2 linked regions of the Homo sapiens genome follow. The protein of the gene in region 1 binds, or shares a complex with, the protein of each later gene. Each region holds a gene or a part of one and is shown on either strand. Other genes may lie near its edges. A codon is read from its position in the direction of its gene.

Region 1 (7,746 bases):
CAGCCGCACTCTTGTCCACCCGAATCCACTTGTTGGACATGGCCTTGCTGAAGCCCACTTTGCCACTGGGCAGTCGCTGGAAAAGAGAGGCTGCAGTGAGTGGGGCACGAGGGCCACCTTCATCCCATCACTCACTCCCCATTCACCCCGCAGCTCCTACCATAAGCTCGCTCTGGGCCAGGCCCTCTGGGGGAATGCTTCGAAACACACGGGCCTCATGGCTGCCCTCCCGGGCAATCTCCTCGCCCTCCGCAGTAAGCTCCCAGTGCTTGGTGGACCGAAGTTCAGCCTCGATGACCTAGAGGGAAATGTGGGGAGGGTGTCCAGGCAGGGGTGAGGCTCAGAGCCAGGCACCCCCTTTCTGCAGCGCTGGGTCCCAGGTTGAAAGCACAGCCCTTAAAGCTAGGTTCACATCCCAGCTATACAACTTTACAGCCAAGTGGTCTCAAGGGAAAGACTTCCCCTTGCTGTGTCTCCATTTCCCTTATGTAACACAGGGGTAGTAATAATGATAGTTTACACCTCCCAGGGTAAAGTACACCACTAAAGATGTTACCTGGCAGAAGACAAATTCTGTCGGTTTTGAACCTGTGACAGATTTTAATGTGAAAAATTAGGTGAACTGATATGTCTCCACATTTTTTTGTTTGTTTTTGTTTTCTTTGAAAGGGGGTCTCACCCTGTCACTAGGCTGGGTGCAGTGGTGTGATCATAGCTCACTGCAGCCTAGACCTCCTGGGCTCAAGCGATCCTTCCGCCAGTCCCGAGTAGCTGGGACTACAGGCATGTGCCGCCACACCTGGTTAATTTTTAAATTACTTTTTTTTTTTGAGACGGAGTCTTGCACTGTCGCTCAGGCTAGAGTGCAATGGTGCGATCTCGGTTCACTGCAACCTCTGCCTCCCGGGTTCAAATGATTCTCCTGCCTCAGCCTCCCGAGTAGCTCGGATTACAGGTGCCCACCACCACCCCCAGCTAATTTTTGTATTTTTAGTAGAGATGGGGTTTCACCATGTTGGCCAGGCTGGTCTCAAACTCCTGACCTCGTAATCGGCCGACTCCGCCTCCCAAAGTGCTAGGATTACAGGCGTGAGCCGCCGTGCCCGGCCCTTTAAATTACTTTTTAAAGACAGGGTGTTGTTATGTTGTCCAGGCTGGTCTCAAACTCCTGGCCTCAAGTGATTCTCCTTCCTCAGCCTCCCAAAGTGCTGGCATAATGGGCATGAGCCACCATACCCAGCCTGTCTCCATGTTTAAATGTTCACATGTCAGTGCCCAGAATGTCAGAGACGGGCCCTGGAGGTCCACATTACAAACAAAAACTGAGGTTCCAGGTCCAGAGTCATGAAGACAAGGACAACAAGGGTAAGTAGAGTGCACAGGGCCTGGCTCCCACTTCATTCTAATCCCAACTCTGCCCTTCACTTACTGTGTGACCTCAGGAAAGTTGCTTAACCTCTCAGTGACTCTTCTCATCCATAAGAGAAAGGTGTGATGGGTTCTACCTCAGATGATTTTAAGGAGTAGCTAAATTAATACTCAGAAAGAATATATAGTGCCTACCACGTGACAAACACTGCATAAATTTTTTTTTTTTTTTTTTTTGAGACGGAGTCTCGCTCTGTCGCCCAGGCTGGAGTGCGATCTCGGCTCACTGCAACCTCCACCTCCCGATTCAAACAATTCTCTGCCTCAGCCTCCCAAGTAGCTGGGATTACGGGTGCCCACCAACACGCCTGGCTAATTTTTTTTTGTATTTTTAGTAGAGACAGGGTTTCATCATCTTGGCCAGGCTGGTCTTGAACTCCTGACCTCGTGATCCACCCGCCTTGGTCTCCCAAAGTGCTGGGATTACAGGTGTGACCACTGCACCCGGCATAAATTCTAATTACTATAATTATTTTTATGGCTATTACTGTCATTAGATTGAACCTCACCTCCTTATATTATTTAACCCTCTGTGACGTATACAAATGTCAGATCATATTGGTCAAGGCACTGTCACCCCACACAACACAGCTGCCATCTCTCCTCTGCATTGAGGACTATGGGCTCTGCAGCCTGAGTGCCTAATTTCAAATCTGGGCTCATCGGCCTCTTCTATTCACACTGATTATGTTACTGACCATCAGTTGTCACATCTGCAAAATGGGAATAACATGGCCATCAGCCAGGATTATGGAATGGATTGGACAAACAAGCTGAGACCAAAGTGGGGCACAGAACATGAGCTCTACGGATAAACAGCCCAGATCCTGGCCCCATGGATCTAGCCTTCTGGGTGGCCCACGGGCCCCTCAGCATCCTACGCCTGTGACTCTGTCACTGTCCACTTGCCCAAGTCAGAAGGCTGGACTTCATCTGTGCGCCCCCTGCCTTGTCCTGAATCCCACGCCTTCCCCACCTCCCCCAAGCTTCCTTCCCATAGCCAGACATCATGCCCTCCAGCTTGGGGAAGTGCCAGCTTCTTCTTTCATCCCTTCACCTCCAGTCCTGTCCATGCCAATTCTTCCCAAAGGTGATGTGGATAGCACACTCATCTGACCGGCTCTAGCTCCTGCTATCGCTTCCCAGTTCCCTCATGAGGTAAAGACCTAAGAGGCTTTGCAATTACAGCTATGCTGGTCTCCCTTGCCGCCTGCCATCCCCCAAGATCCCGGCCACTGATCTCTAAAGTGCTATCACTTTCCTCAACAGAGAACAGACTCAGCCGTCACCTGCACCAGGCCGCTCTCCCTGACCCCCAAGGCTGGGTCAGCTGTCACAGCTGGGTCCCCTGTTTTCCCCCATCACTCTGGTTCTTGAAGCACCTTCCTATTACGTCGCAACCTGCGTGAGGGCAGCAACCGCGACTTCCTCGTCCATCATCGTACCCTCTACCCACGCTGACCGTGCCTCAATAAACGTTTATTGCATGAGGAACATCCGTGCGTCTGGGCCCTCACTCGTCCCACTTCCCGCCCGCACATCCCGGAGTGGACACATATACAGCTACCCCAAACTAGGCCTGAGGGAATTTGGCTTGGACGTAGAGCGCCCGTGGCAAGGGGACTGTAGGTGCAAGGGCAAGGCGGTCCGGCATCACGGGCCCGGCTCACCTCGCCCAGCGCCTGAAGGCTCTTCACGGCGCCCACCACCGCCTGGTGCTCCATGCCCAGCTCAGCCGCCAACTCGGCGCTGTCCAGGCCGCCATCAGACGCCTCCAGCCGCCGGAGCAGCAGTTCCGCCACCTGACCATCCGCCATGACTCCTTCCAGTGTGCTCAGCGTGTCCGGGCCCGGGTGGGCGGGGGGAGCTGAGCCACCGGAACCGGAACCGGAGTGTGTACCGCCATCTTGAATGTGTCTAACTGTAGAACAGGGCTCAATGTGTCGTCATCTTGAGTGTGGCGACGGAGCCGCAAAAGGTGCATGGGACTCAGTTCCCACCTCCACCCTGGCTCCATCAATGGCGTCTGGTTGACCAGAGGGGTAAAATTGATTATCTCAAGGTCAGAAGCACCGCCCTGTTTTGAGTTTTATCTAGCCTCACTTCGAGCGGGCTGTGTGACCTTGGACTTCCCCGTCTCTGGGTTACAGAACCCTCTGCCCTTCTGGTATTCTCTCTTGCCCTAGGAGAGGCGGTGGGTGGTGGGCTCCAGAGATGGTCATTTTGGCGATGTCAGCTACTTTTAAAATTTCAAAGGAAGGCTGGGTAGGTACCGTCCCTTTTTATAGAGGGAAAAGGAATTCACCTAGTAAGTCAAGGTGGCACCTAACCTGTGTGGACTACCTCGTATGTGGTAGTACTTAGCCCAGAACTGAGTACTTCACGTGTAGTATTTCATTTATCCCCAAAACTTTATGATGTAGATACTGATATAACCGCATTACACATGTGAGAAAACTGAGGCTCAGAGGGTGGTATGACTTGCCCAAGGTTCTACAGAGAGTTGGTGGAAATGAAGTCATAAATTATAAACCTTCCAGATCCTCCCACCCCTGTGCGCTGAGAGTAACGTCAGTGCAAATACTGCATGGCCTAGATTAGCACTGTCCTATAGAAACACAGTGCAAAACATCTTTCTTTTTTGAGACAGGGTCTTGCTCTGTCACCCATGCTGGAGTGCAGTGGTGCAATTATGGCTTACTGCAGCCTTGACTTCCCAGGCTCTAAGGATCCTCCAACCTTAGGCTCCTGAGTAGCTGGAACTGCAGGTGCGCGCCACCACACCCAGCTTTTTTTTTTTTTTTAAGTATGGGTTTTGGCCATGTTGCCCAGGCTGGTCTCAAACTCCTAGGCTCAGGTTATCCTCCTGCATCGGTCTCCCAAAATGCTGGCATTAGAGGCATGACCCACCTCGCCCAGCCAGCCAGACCCTGACTCTTACAAAAAAAAAGATGACTAATAAAATATTTTGCACTCGGCCGGGCACAGTGGCTCACCTCTGTAATCCCAGCACTTTGGGAGGCCGAGGCGGGTGGATCACCTGAGGTCGGGAGTTTGAGACCAGCCTGACCAACATGGAGAAACCCCGTCTCTACTAAAAATACAAAATTAGCAGGGCGTGGTGGCGCATGCCTGTAATCTCAGCTACTTGGGAGGCTGAGGCAGGAGAGTCGCTTGAACCTGGGAGGCAGAGGTTGTGGTGAGCCGAGATCGTGTCATTGCACTCCAGCCTGGGTGACAAGGCGAAACTCCGTCTCAAAAAAAAAAAAATTGCACTTTTTTTCATACTAAATCTTCAAAATCTGATGCGTATTTTACACTTACAACACATCTCAGTTCGGACCAACCACATTTCAAATGGTCAGTAATCACATGTGGGCAGTGGTGACTTACGTCAGCACAGGTAGATTAGAATCCTAGATCTGCTGGCCAGGCTCAGTAATCCCAGCACTTTGGGAGGCTGAGGCGGGTGAATCACCTGAGGTCAGGAGTTCAAGACCAGCTTGGCCAAGATGGCGAAACCCCATCTCCTCTAAAAACACAAAAATTAGCTGGGTGCAGTGGGGGTGCCTGTAATCCCAGCTACACGGGAAGCTGAGGCAGGAGAATCACTTGAGCCTGGTAGGTGGAGCTTGCAGTGAGCAGAGATCGCACCACTGCACTCCAGCCTCGGTGACAGAGCAAGGCTCTGTCTCAAAAAAAAAAAAAAAAAAAAAAAAGAATCCTAGATCTGTTATTTATGTCATTCAACCAGAAGGTGTAGTCTTTCTGTGCCTCAGTTTCTTGCTCACATGGAGGTGATTGGAGCCCAGGTTACTGTGAGAATTAAATGCCCACACATATTCACACTGCTTACTAAATTGAGTGTGGCCCATGTTCGAACACTCTTATAAGCAGAACACATTTATTCCTTTTACATCACAATTATTATTTGAGTCTGTAAAATGGGATTACTCATATCCCCAAATCCTGACCCTATATGAGGTTCTGTATTAAGGATACATTTCTCAAAGTCCCTTCTCTCCTCCCATTTTATGTTGATTATTTATTTATTTATTTAGGGAGTGGGTCTCACTCTATTGCCCAGGCTGGAGTGCAGTGGCATGATCTTGGCTGACTGCAGCCTCCACCTCCTGGGCTCAAGCAATCCTCTCACCTCAGCCTCCCGAGTAGTTGGGACTACAGGTGTGTACCAGCAGGCCAGGCTAATTTGTGTTATGTATATTATATATTATATGCTATATATAATATACATACTATTCATATATTTATGCATTATATGTCATATATAATATATTACATATGTGTACATATATATATTTTGTAAGAATGAGGTTCCACCATGTTGCCCAGGCTGGTTTTGAACTGCCGGGCTCAAACAATCTGCCTGCCTCAGGTTCCCAAGGTGCTAGGATTATAAGTGTGAACTACCATGTCCGGCTTATTTTTATTTATTTTTGAGACAGGGTCTTGCTCTGTAACCCAGGCTAGAGTGTGCAGTGGCAACAACACAGCTCACGGCAGCGTCAACCTCCTGGTCTCAAGTGATCCTCCTGCCTCAGCCTTCTGAGTAGCTGGGAACACAGGCAGGCGCCACCACGCCTGGCAATTAAAAAAAATGTTTTTGTAAAAATGGCCTCCTGCTATGTTGCCCAGGCTGGTCTTGAACTCCTGGCCTTAAGCATTCCTCCCATCTTGGCCTGCCAAAGTGTTGGGATTACAGGCGTGAGCCACTGTGCCCCGTGTGTTTTTAGTTAATTTCCACAAGAGTCCTTCCTTCCTCTCTTCTATCATGCAGCAAGTACTTTTTAAGCCTGTTCTGTGCCAGGTGCTGCAGGTGACACTGGAGGATGCGAAGTGAACAAAACAGGCAGTGTCTAACCTCAAGTAGGAAGCGCCAAGCCCACAGGTGCCTGACACAGGAACAGGAGGAAGGGTCAGCAAGAGGCCTGGGATGGTCCCCGGGATCCTCATGGGGGGGACCAGACTAGGCAATACTGAATACTACCTAGAGGAAGTGGTAGAACCCCAACTTCCCAGTTCATTCTCCCCCGTCTTTTTTTCGAGATGGAGTCTTGCTCTGTCACCTGGGCTGGTGGGCTGGAGTGGAGTGGCGTGATCTTGGCTCACTGCAATCTCTGGCTCCCAGGTTCAAGCGATTCTCCCACCTCAGCCTCCCGAGTACTGGGATTAGAGGCACCCGCCACCACGCCTGGCTAATTTTTATTTATTTATTTATTTTTATTTTTAGTGGAGATGGGTTTTCACCTTGTTGGCCAGGCTGGTCTCGAACTGACCTAAAATGATCTGCCCGCCTCGGCCTCCCCAAGTGCTGGGTTTACAGGCGTGAGCCACTGCGCCCGGCCACCATTTCTTTTTTTTTTTTTTAACCAGAGACCCTTGCCAAGTCATTCCCCCCACTCCACTTTATTTTCCTTTTCATTTTTTCCTTCCTCTCTTTTCTGAGTCACAACCATTAGCCAGGAAGCACCCCCTCCCCACCCTCTTTCCTGGATCCCCCTCATTCCCTCCTTCCATAGTCCACTCCCGCGCTCCCAGGTCCAGGGCTTATTTGCCCAGAGTTTGGAAAACCCCCAGCTCTCCTTCCTCCTTTCTACAGCGTGGGGGCAGGGTACTGGTGCCAGTCACGTGCCTCTGGCTTCTGAAGAAGACTCTAGACTGGGGTCGGGGGGTGGGTCCTGCCCATCTCCCTAGCATCTTATCGTCCCTACCATCTGTGTCTTTTTTCCCTCCCCAAACGGAACCCCCTGCCCTCTCGCCTGCCTATAGCCGTTTAATTGCAAAAGCCAGGCCGTTTGTGGGAGACCACAGACAGCGACCCCCTTCATTTACCGGTTGAGAGGAGGGTAAAGGGGCGGCTGCAATCTGGGTAATAACCCTATCCCCACTCCAGAAGTCACAGTCACATCGTTAAGCCTTCCTCCCCTCTTGTCCCAGGACAGCTTTAAAAACGTTAAAAGCATTTCTGCTGGGTAGCATCTGGCCAGGGTCGCCCCCTCTGTCTGCTCAGGAACGTCTGTCACTTCAGAGAGCTTAAGTGACTTGCCCCGGTCACACAGCAGCAGTCCGATAGGCTGCCAGGGCTCTAGGGGCAGAAGGAGGAGAGGGCTGGCATTCTTCCCACCGGCCCGCGTGACTGTAGCACCGGGGTGCAGCGAAGCCCCAAGGGCCCCAATCCGTGAGCTCTCTCCCATCCCAGGCAGGGGTGGGGGAGCAGCAGTGGGGTGCTGGTTCTCAAATGCAAGATAAGAGCTGGCTAAGAAAGCCTTGCCCAGCCCCTCCACCTAGAGGGAATGG
Region 2 (7,274 bases), on another chromosome or scaffold:
TCATGCTCTTAGACTTAGTATGATGGACACTGTGATATTGGAATTACTCTTTCTTGGTCATATCCATCTGCTTGCATAGGACGAGACTGAAAATCTTTAGCAGGATTTATAAACGTCTTTGGAATGATGTAGCACAACAGTGTTTTACTGTGGGGAATGGGGAATGACTATCTGAAAGGGAAAATTGTTTGGCATTTTATATTATTTCCAGGCAGTGCAAACTGTCTAGCAAGTAGAATGTTCATATATGAATCTAATATAGCAAATTTATCCCTCATAATACTGTTTTTGAAACATCAAGTTTATTCTCAATGTGTGGCTCTAATGACAATTTCTTGGGAACGTAATAGAACTGCAATAATGACTAATGGAAAAGACTCTAAAGCTGTATCTGATGGGAAATGATTTACTTTTTAAACTCTTTCTATTTAAGGAATTAGCTTACCGAAAGGAGATGGTGAGAGCTGACCTAATTAACAAAAAAGTTGGAATCAGGTATGCTCTGAAAACTTCACTTAATTCAAGAACAAAGTACACGTATGACTAATTTTTTTTTTGCGATCCTTCAGAGTCTGTTAAGGAATGATAAAACATCAGTTAAGATATCTGGTTTCTGATAGAACTCAAAAAGAAAGGTTACTGTTTCAGCTAGTAGCATATGTTGAAACACAATGTAAACATTAAAAAAATAATCCAATGAAGTTTATGGTTTGTTCATTCCTTTTTCAGAGAAACTCCAGAAAATCTTGCCAAACTTCTGACCAGGATGTATTTAAAATCAGAAGTCATAGGTGATGGGAATCAGATTGAGATTGAAATCCCTCCAACCAGAGCTGACATTATCCATGCATGTGATATTGTAGAAGATGCAGCTATTGCTTATGGATATAACAACATTCAGATGACTCTCCCGAAAACTTACACCATAGCTAATCAAGTAAGATTGCACCCTTAAATAAACACTCCTTATTGTTAGAAACTGATTATTTAATGCCAGGAAGGCTTCGAGAAAACAGAACGTAGGAATCAAGCAGTATTTGGACATGCTCTGCAATGAGAGGCATTTGCTGTGGAGAGGATACAAAACAGATGCCCAAATGATTAGAGTAAGTTGAAAACCTGTGATGACTAGTTCTTTGAAGAAAGACAAGTTTTGAGTTTGGAGCCCTTGTTGAATCTCTCAGAGATTCATTTTCTCAACTTGGGCCTGAAGGCAGAAGCTGTGTGTGGGAGAGATGGAAGTGGGGGTGGTTTGTACATCTGTGTAGGAGCAGAGGGGTGGCAGAGCGGTGGGGAGGGAGGAGGTAATATTGATAGGGAAATAGTGGCATTAGCAGTACGTTAGTAAGGGTGAAAAGGTTTTTAATCTTTTAAACATTTTTATTTAAAAAAGTTTTAATGGCATGTTCTGTATAAATCTCCCTTTTAAAAAACAAGAAATAATTGCGGTGAAATCAAGTGGATGCTTTTTTTTTCAGTTTCCTCTTAATAAGCTCACTGAACTTCTCCGACATGACATGGCAGCCGCTGGCTTCACTGAAGCACTTACCTTTGCCCTGGTATGTCTTACATGCTTTTTCTGCCCAGATGATTATTTACTTAGACTCTCTGAATTATTTATTCTATGATGCTTTATAAGAATTTATAAAATCTAGACTGTTAGAACTTCCAGATTCTGGAAGAATAACTTTGTTACTTGAGATTATACAATTCCTGGTAAAGTAATGTTGAAGCTTTTGTTTTTACAGCCACAAAAGAAAATGAAGGCCTAGAAAAAAATACCTCAAATGAGAGATGACAAAGTATTTTATAGTTTCATGTGAGTGTTGAGAGTTCACAATGTATTTCATAACCAAATTTATTAAGTTAGAATATTTGGTCTTAATTTGGTTATGGCTGTGCCCACTAGATGCCGTCCTGGGTAAAGGCTTGTGGACTGTTCCACATTAAATTAATTTCTTTGTCTTTGAACATGTTCACAAACATTTGCTTTGAGTTGAAAAGCTGACATAAAAGGCCTAAATCAGGAAATGACTTTTATTACAAAATCAGAAGGAAATTTCCCTCCCCCACCAGATTGACCATTTGAAAGAATAAAATGTGTATGCAATTTGTAGTTCCGTTTTTCCCTCTTGCTGAGCATTTCTGTGGTGCCTGCAATGTAGTTCTTGAGCATTCAAGTATGTTTAATCTATGAGGGGAAAGGAAGCTTCTTCTTTTTCTCCCCTGCAACTTAGCCCTACCTCTGAAATTCTCAATATTTTAGAGTATTTAAGGGACTCTACTTCTAGTTTGCTTAATAAATATTAAGCATTAAGATTTTTCTGATTCAGGAGTCATTCATTCAACATTTGTTGAGCATTTATTATATGTCAGGCACTGCACCAATGAGGAAGCCTGAGGCTGAGAGAGGATAAGTACGTAGCACATTTTACACGGACAGCAGGAGAACTGCTGTGTTCCAGGCCACCATACCTGCATGATCTCATTATATCATGAGCAGGGTCCTGACCTTTAGCCTCCTAGAACAGTGCTTTTCCATGGTCTCATACCGTGTACACTAGGTCTGTAATGCCATGTCATTCATCTTTGCACATATATATACACACATTTGTAGTTGTGAGCATCCAGGATTTCATATAAAATGAAGTACCAAAAATAACATTGAAAAATATATTTTTATTTTTTAAAACATATGAGTGTCACAGGAATACATCTTATTTTAAAGGACTCATACTTTAACCATGTAGATTAAACCATAACAGTTCTTTTCCCCACTTCGAATCCTCTTTTCCTCCCCAGAAACAACTGCTGTTAAAACTTGGGTATGCATTTTTCCCTGCCCTTTTATATTAGTGGTGCCAGTTTGAAAAAAGTTACTTATTACTTTATCCTTTTTATACTTATACTTTATACTTATTACAATATCCATTGCCAGTTTGATTTTGTGACCTTAGAGCCTCATGTGTCTTCGAAGGAGCACAGAGGCCGAGTCTTGACTAGTGGCTGCTCTGCAGGGAATGTTTACCCTGTGCCAAGGGCTTTGTGTACATGATTCCATTTCTTCTCAGTATACTCCTGTGAAGTGGGCATTCCTGTCTTTCACAGCAGTTAATTTAAGTAACTTGTCCTACGCCATGGCTGTGGATCAGGGATTCCCGCCCATGCCTGTCTGCATCCAAGGCCTGTGACTGAACTGTCACACCAGGGATGTTAGAAACAGTCTGTTTAGCTGTCCAAAGTCACTTTAATACATTCAATGTTTATCACTGGGGGGAAGAGAAAGGAGTGAGCTCCTAGAGGGTTTCAGATTTGTACTAAATTTTCCTGTAGGAATTTCAACATTAAAGATGTTTATAAAGATGTTTATAGGCAAGCCTAAGCATCGCTGAGCAAAGATGGTCTATGTTGTTAAATCCAGTTTTGCACAAGAGTAACAGCCATTTTTTTAAGCCTAGTCTCTGACTTTCTAAGTGTAAATAATTCACACTTCATCATATTGATTTTTGCTATATCTGCATAGTAGTTGTAATATTTTCTTTTAAATTGGCTCACTTTTAAGTTGGCTTATGTACTTCAGCCTTGTTATAGGAATAATATCTGTAAAAACTATAAGGTTCATTTACTTGTTGTATTTTTCTAACACATTAAAATAAACACATAAATATTAACATTAAAAAAGTTCCTGGCAGGCATGGTGGCTCATGCCTGTAATCCCAGCACTTTGGGAGGCCGAGGCGGGCGGATCACTTGAGGCTACAAGTTCGAGACCAGTGTGGCCAACATGGCAAAACCCCATCTCTACTAAAAATACAAAAATTAGTCGGGTGTGGTGGAGGTTGCAGCAAGCCGAGATTGCACCACTGAACTCCAGTGTGGGCGACAGGGTGAGACTCTGTCTCAAACAAAAAAAAGTTTCTTACTGTGTACTAACTACTGCCACTTCAGGGTAGCTTAATTTAAATTGCCTCTTGTCACTATCCCTTATTATCCATTGCCATGATAAAATACAAGTTCACTCAGATACACAGCTGCGTTGCCATGTGTCTGCAGAGTGTTTTTCTTTTACACAGAGAGGACTAGTTTCATTTGAGAATAGATTGCTTCATGTCAGTTGCATTTCATAATTAATCAGTCACATTATACCTAAGTCTTGCTGTAAAACTTCTTTATGCTGTGGGGAAAACGCTTATCCCCAGTGTGCATGTCACCATTCTCCATCTCAGCAGCTGTAGCAGATCCGGGAGCTGTTTTCTGCTATGGCTGGATGTGGCTTCAGGATCTTTCTCAAGAAAGCATGGCAAGAATCACTAGAACTGACATTGACATGAAATGAATTCTTTTTACCATTTCAGTTGATGTGTATCATTTTGTTTTAATAAGTGAAATACAGGCCAACTAGCCTTTGAAAACTAGTTGTAGAACAGCATAATGAACAATATTGCCTAACATTGGACAATAGTACAATAATCTGATGGTACATCAGTTTTTGTGTTACGTTTTAAATGCTTTTTCAAAAAGCTAGCATTAATATACATGATAATAATTTATCCTTAGTAATGATTTGTCAGTTATCATCATTGTTGGTATTTTTTGAGTGCTTACTCTGTGCCAGGCACCATACTTGCATTATCTCATTATATCATTTATTATTAGACTTGATGTATCTAATCGTCAGTGAGTTTTTAATTTCATAACTTCTGCCTACAATGCTGGTTTCTGAGGGTGGCAAGCATCTTTCTCTTCGATTGGTGGGTACTCAGCAGTTTATTTGTTATGAGTTTCAGGCATGTGCACAGAAGTTAAGTGATACAGTAAAGAACACTGGGCAGAGTTCCAGTCACTTGAATTCTGTTGTCAGTCCTACTGTTCTGCCACAAGTCAGTATGGATTTAGCAAGGGTTATAATGGTAGTCAAAATGGAAAGTCATGAAATACCAAGGAGGGAGAGAAAGTTTCTGACTAGAGTCATTAGGAATATTATGGAAGAGAGGTCATTTAAGTCAGCCTTAGGGAATGGTAGCAGGTGAGGCTGGGAGGACATTTCAGGTAAGGTAGGGAAACATAAGGTTTAGGGAATGGCTAGGGCATCATGGGAGATTAGATTGGAAAGGTAAATGGGAAACTAGCTTAGGAAGGGCCCGAGTACAGTTTATACCATCTCCATGTGAAAAATTTACTTTAGCTCTGTATGATGGCTAGGACTCATTGTGAAAGAAGTATTAATGTTAAATTCCATCTGCTATGGGCCTGAGATTGATGTGTATTTATTGTTAGCTTATTCTTTTTTTGTTTGTTTTTTATTATTATTATTATTACATTTACTTCAGCTCACACCAGGCCTATTCTTAACTTGCTGATATGTGTAGAGAATATAAATTGCTCTTAGAAGTTGACTTACAGCATTACTTTTTATTTTAAACTTAAGTAATTGCTTTTCCATATTAATCTGTTTTGTGTGTACTTCACAGTGCTCCCAAGAAGATATTGCTGATAAACTAGGTGTGGATATCTCTGCAACAAAGGCAGTCCACATAAGTAATCCTAAAACAGCTGAATTTCAGGTAAGAATTTTAAGTAGGTGAGAATTCATGTAAAAACCTAGAGGTAGTACATGAGTTAGGAAAAGTCTCTTCAGTTATTATACCTGAGATGGTGAAATCTTAGAGCTTTTTAATAATATCTTCTTGGGTAAGTTTATAGTTGGTTATTACGTGCTTTGCTGCCAAAAATTCTTTACACTTTTAAAAATAATATCTTCTTGATTAACTTCATACTGGGTTCTTACTTGCTTTGTATTATCTGGCCCAATCTCTCTTGTCTGAACTTTCCATTTCATAATTGATTTTTTAATACTATTTTCAGATTTCATTTTTTTTTTTTTTTTTTAATTTTTATTTTTTGGGACAGAGTCTTGCCCTGTTGCTCAGGCTGGAGTGCAGTGGCACGATCTCGGCTCACTGCAACCTCTGCCTCCTGGGTTCAAGCGATTCTGCTGCCTCAGCCTCCCAAGTAGTTGGGATTACAGGTGCATGCCACGATGCTTGGCTAAATTTTTTTTTTTTTTGAGACAGAGTCTCGCTCTGTCGCCCAGGCTGGAGTGCAGTGGCGGGATCTCGGCTCACTGCAAGCTCCGCCTCCCGGGTTCACGCCATTCTCCTGCCTCAGCCTCCCAAGTAGCTGGGACTACAGGCGCCCGCCACTACGCCCGGCTAATTTTTTGTATTTTTAGTAGAGACGGGGTTTCACCATGTTGGCGAGGCTGGTTCTGAACTCCTGATCTCAAGTGATCCGCAAAGTGACCTCAGCCTCCCAAAGTGCTGGGATTACAGGCATGAGCACCTAGCCAGGTTTCATCTCTTTTCCATTCATTTGTAATAAATGAATCAAAACCTGTTCCCAGTTCCTTCGTAAGTCATTCACTTTGAAATTGCCCATTATATCAGTTCTTGACTGTGCTGCTTATGTCTTTTATTGTAATTGTCTAAGTTTATTGGCAGTTTCATTTAGAGGTTAGGAATATTTAAATGAGAATGATACTGCTTTAATATTGAGTATTAAGTGATTTGTGTTATAGACTAGGATATTAACTATAAAGGGAGGGCATTTTAAGATTATAACATCTTTGCTTATTAATAACTTTAAATAGTTCTCTTTTATACTGATAAGCTCTTGTGCTGTTTCTCTTGCATATGCAAGTCTGTATGTTTTTTAACCTAGATTTTAGAGAAAATCATGTCTTCTTCTAGAATCAAGGGGAATCTTAGAACTGGAAGGTTATATTTTAAAGAAGGTTAATGCTATTATAAATAATATCTGAATTCTGATTTGAAATAGTTTCTTTGGATTTTGGTTTTTACTTCTACAAAAATAAGGGACTGGGTTAGTTCTAAAAAGAATTCTAAAAGTTCTAAAAGTGTTTAAAACTAAATTTAAAAATTCTAAAGTTTATCTATAGAACCACCTGCTAATGTTGTAGATTAGAGCTAGACTAATTAAAGAACTAATTGGTAATATATATCAAGTATATGAATTCTTTATCTATACTTAGGGTCAGAACTTTGAAGAATCCTTATACTAATTTTGGAAGGATTGTAGTAATGAGTTGTTATATTTTATTTTCTGAGGTCTAGTTTCCTATTGCTTTTAAAGTTTGCCCATGGTGTTCCTTTTAATAAGAGGTATTCAAATTCATTTGCATAGAATGATTTTTCAGTAAATCTTAATGGATTTTTGCTTATTCGAAATGTACCTTTTTCTCCCAGTTTTACTTA

Evidence for each region.
Region 2: the proteins of FARSA (region 1) and FARSB are in contact, whole or in part, in a crystal structure (PDB 3L4G), measured with the Homo sapiens proteins. Residues at the interface, in NP_004452.1 of Homo sapiens: Ser221, Gly222, His223, Leu224, His225, Leu227, Leu228, Arg231, Ser232, Arg235, Leu239, Gly242, Phe243, Thr244, Glu245, Pro247, Asp249, Asn250, Phe251, Ile252, Glu253, Ser254, Phe263, Gln266, Gln267, Phe277, Phe278, Leu279, Arg280, Asp281; in NP_005678.3 of Homo sapiens: Glu26, Phe29, Gly32, Leu33, Pro68, Ala69, Asn70, Ile150, Arg152, Asp259, Thr261, Lys262, Arg305 (codon at 446), Lys316 (codon at 479), Lys317 (codon at 482), Val318 (codon at 485), Gly319 (codon at 488), Ile359 (codon at 842), His360 (codon at 845), Cys362 (codon at 851), Asp363 (codon at 854), Glu366 (codon at 863), Ala369 (codon at 872), Ile370 (codon at 875), Tyr374 (codon at 887), Asn375 (codon at 890), Ile377 (codon at 896), Gln378 (codon at 899), Met379 (codon at 902), Thr380 (codon at 905).

Annotation. Positions count from the first base shown.
Region 1 is NC_000019.10:12,930,452-12,938,197, forward strand, and holds the start of FARSA (phenylalanine--tRNA ligase alpha subunit), read right to left. Parts: upstream 3,261-7,746; 5' UTR 3,246-3,260; coding exon 3,099-3,245; intron 2,846-3,098; exon of another isoform or gene 2,698-2,845; intron 2,587-2,697; exon of another isoform or gene 2,519-2,586; intron 299-2,518; coding exon 161-298; intron 96-160; exon of another isoform or gene 77-95; coding exon 1-76.
Region 2 is NC_000002.12:222,617,935-222,625,208, reverse strand, and holds part of FARSB (phenylalanine--tRNA ligase beta subunit), read left to right. Parts: intron 1-433; coding exon 434-495; intron 496-729; coding exon 730-937; intron 938-1,478; coding exon 1,479-1,559; intron 1,560-5,471; coding exon 5,472-5,564; intron 5,565-7,274.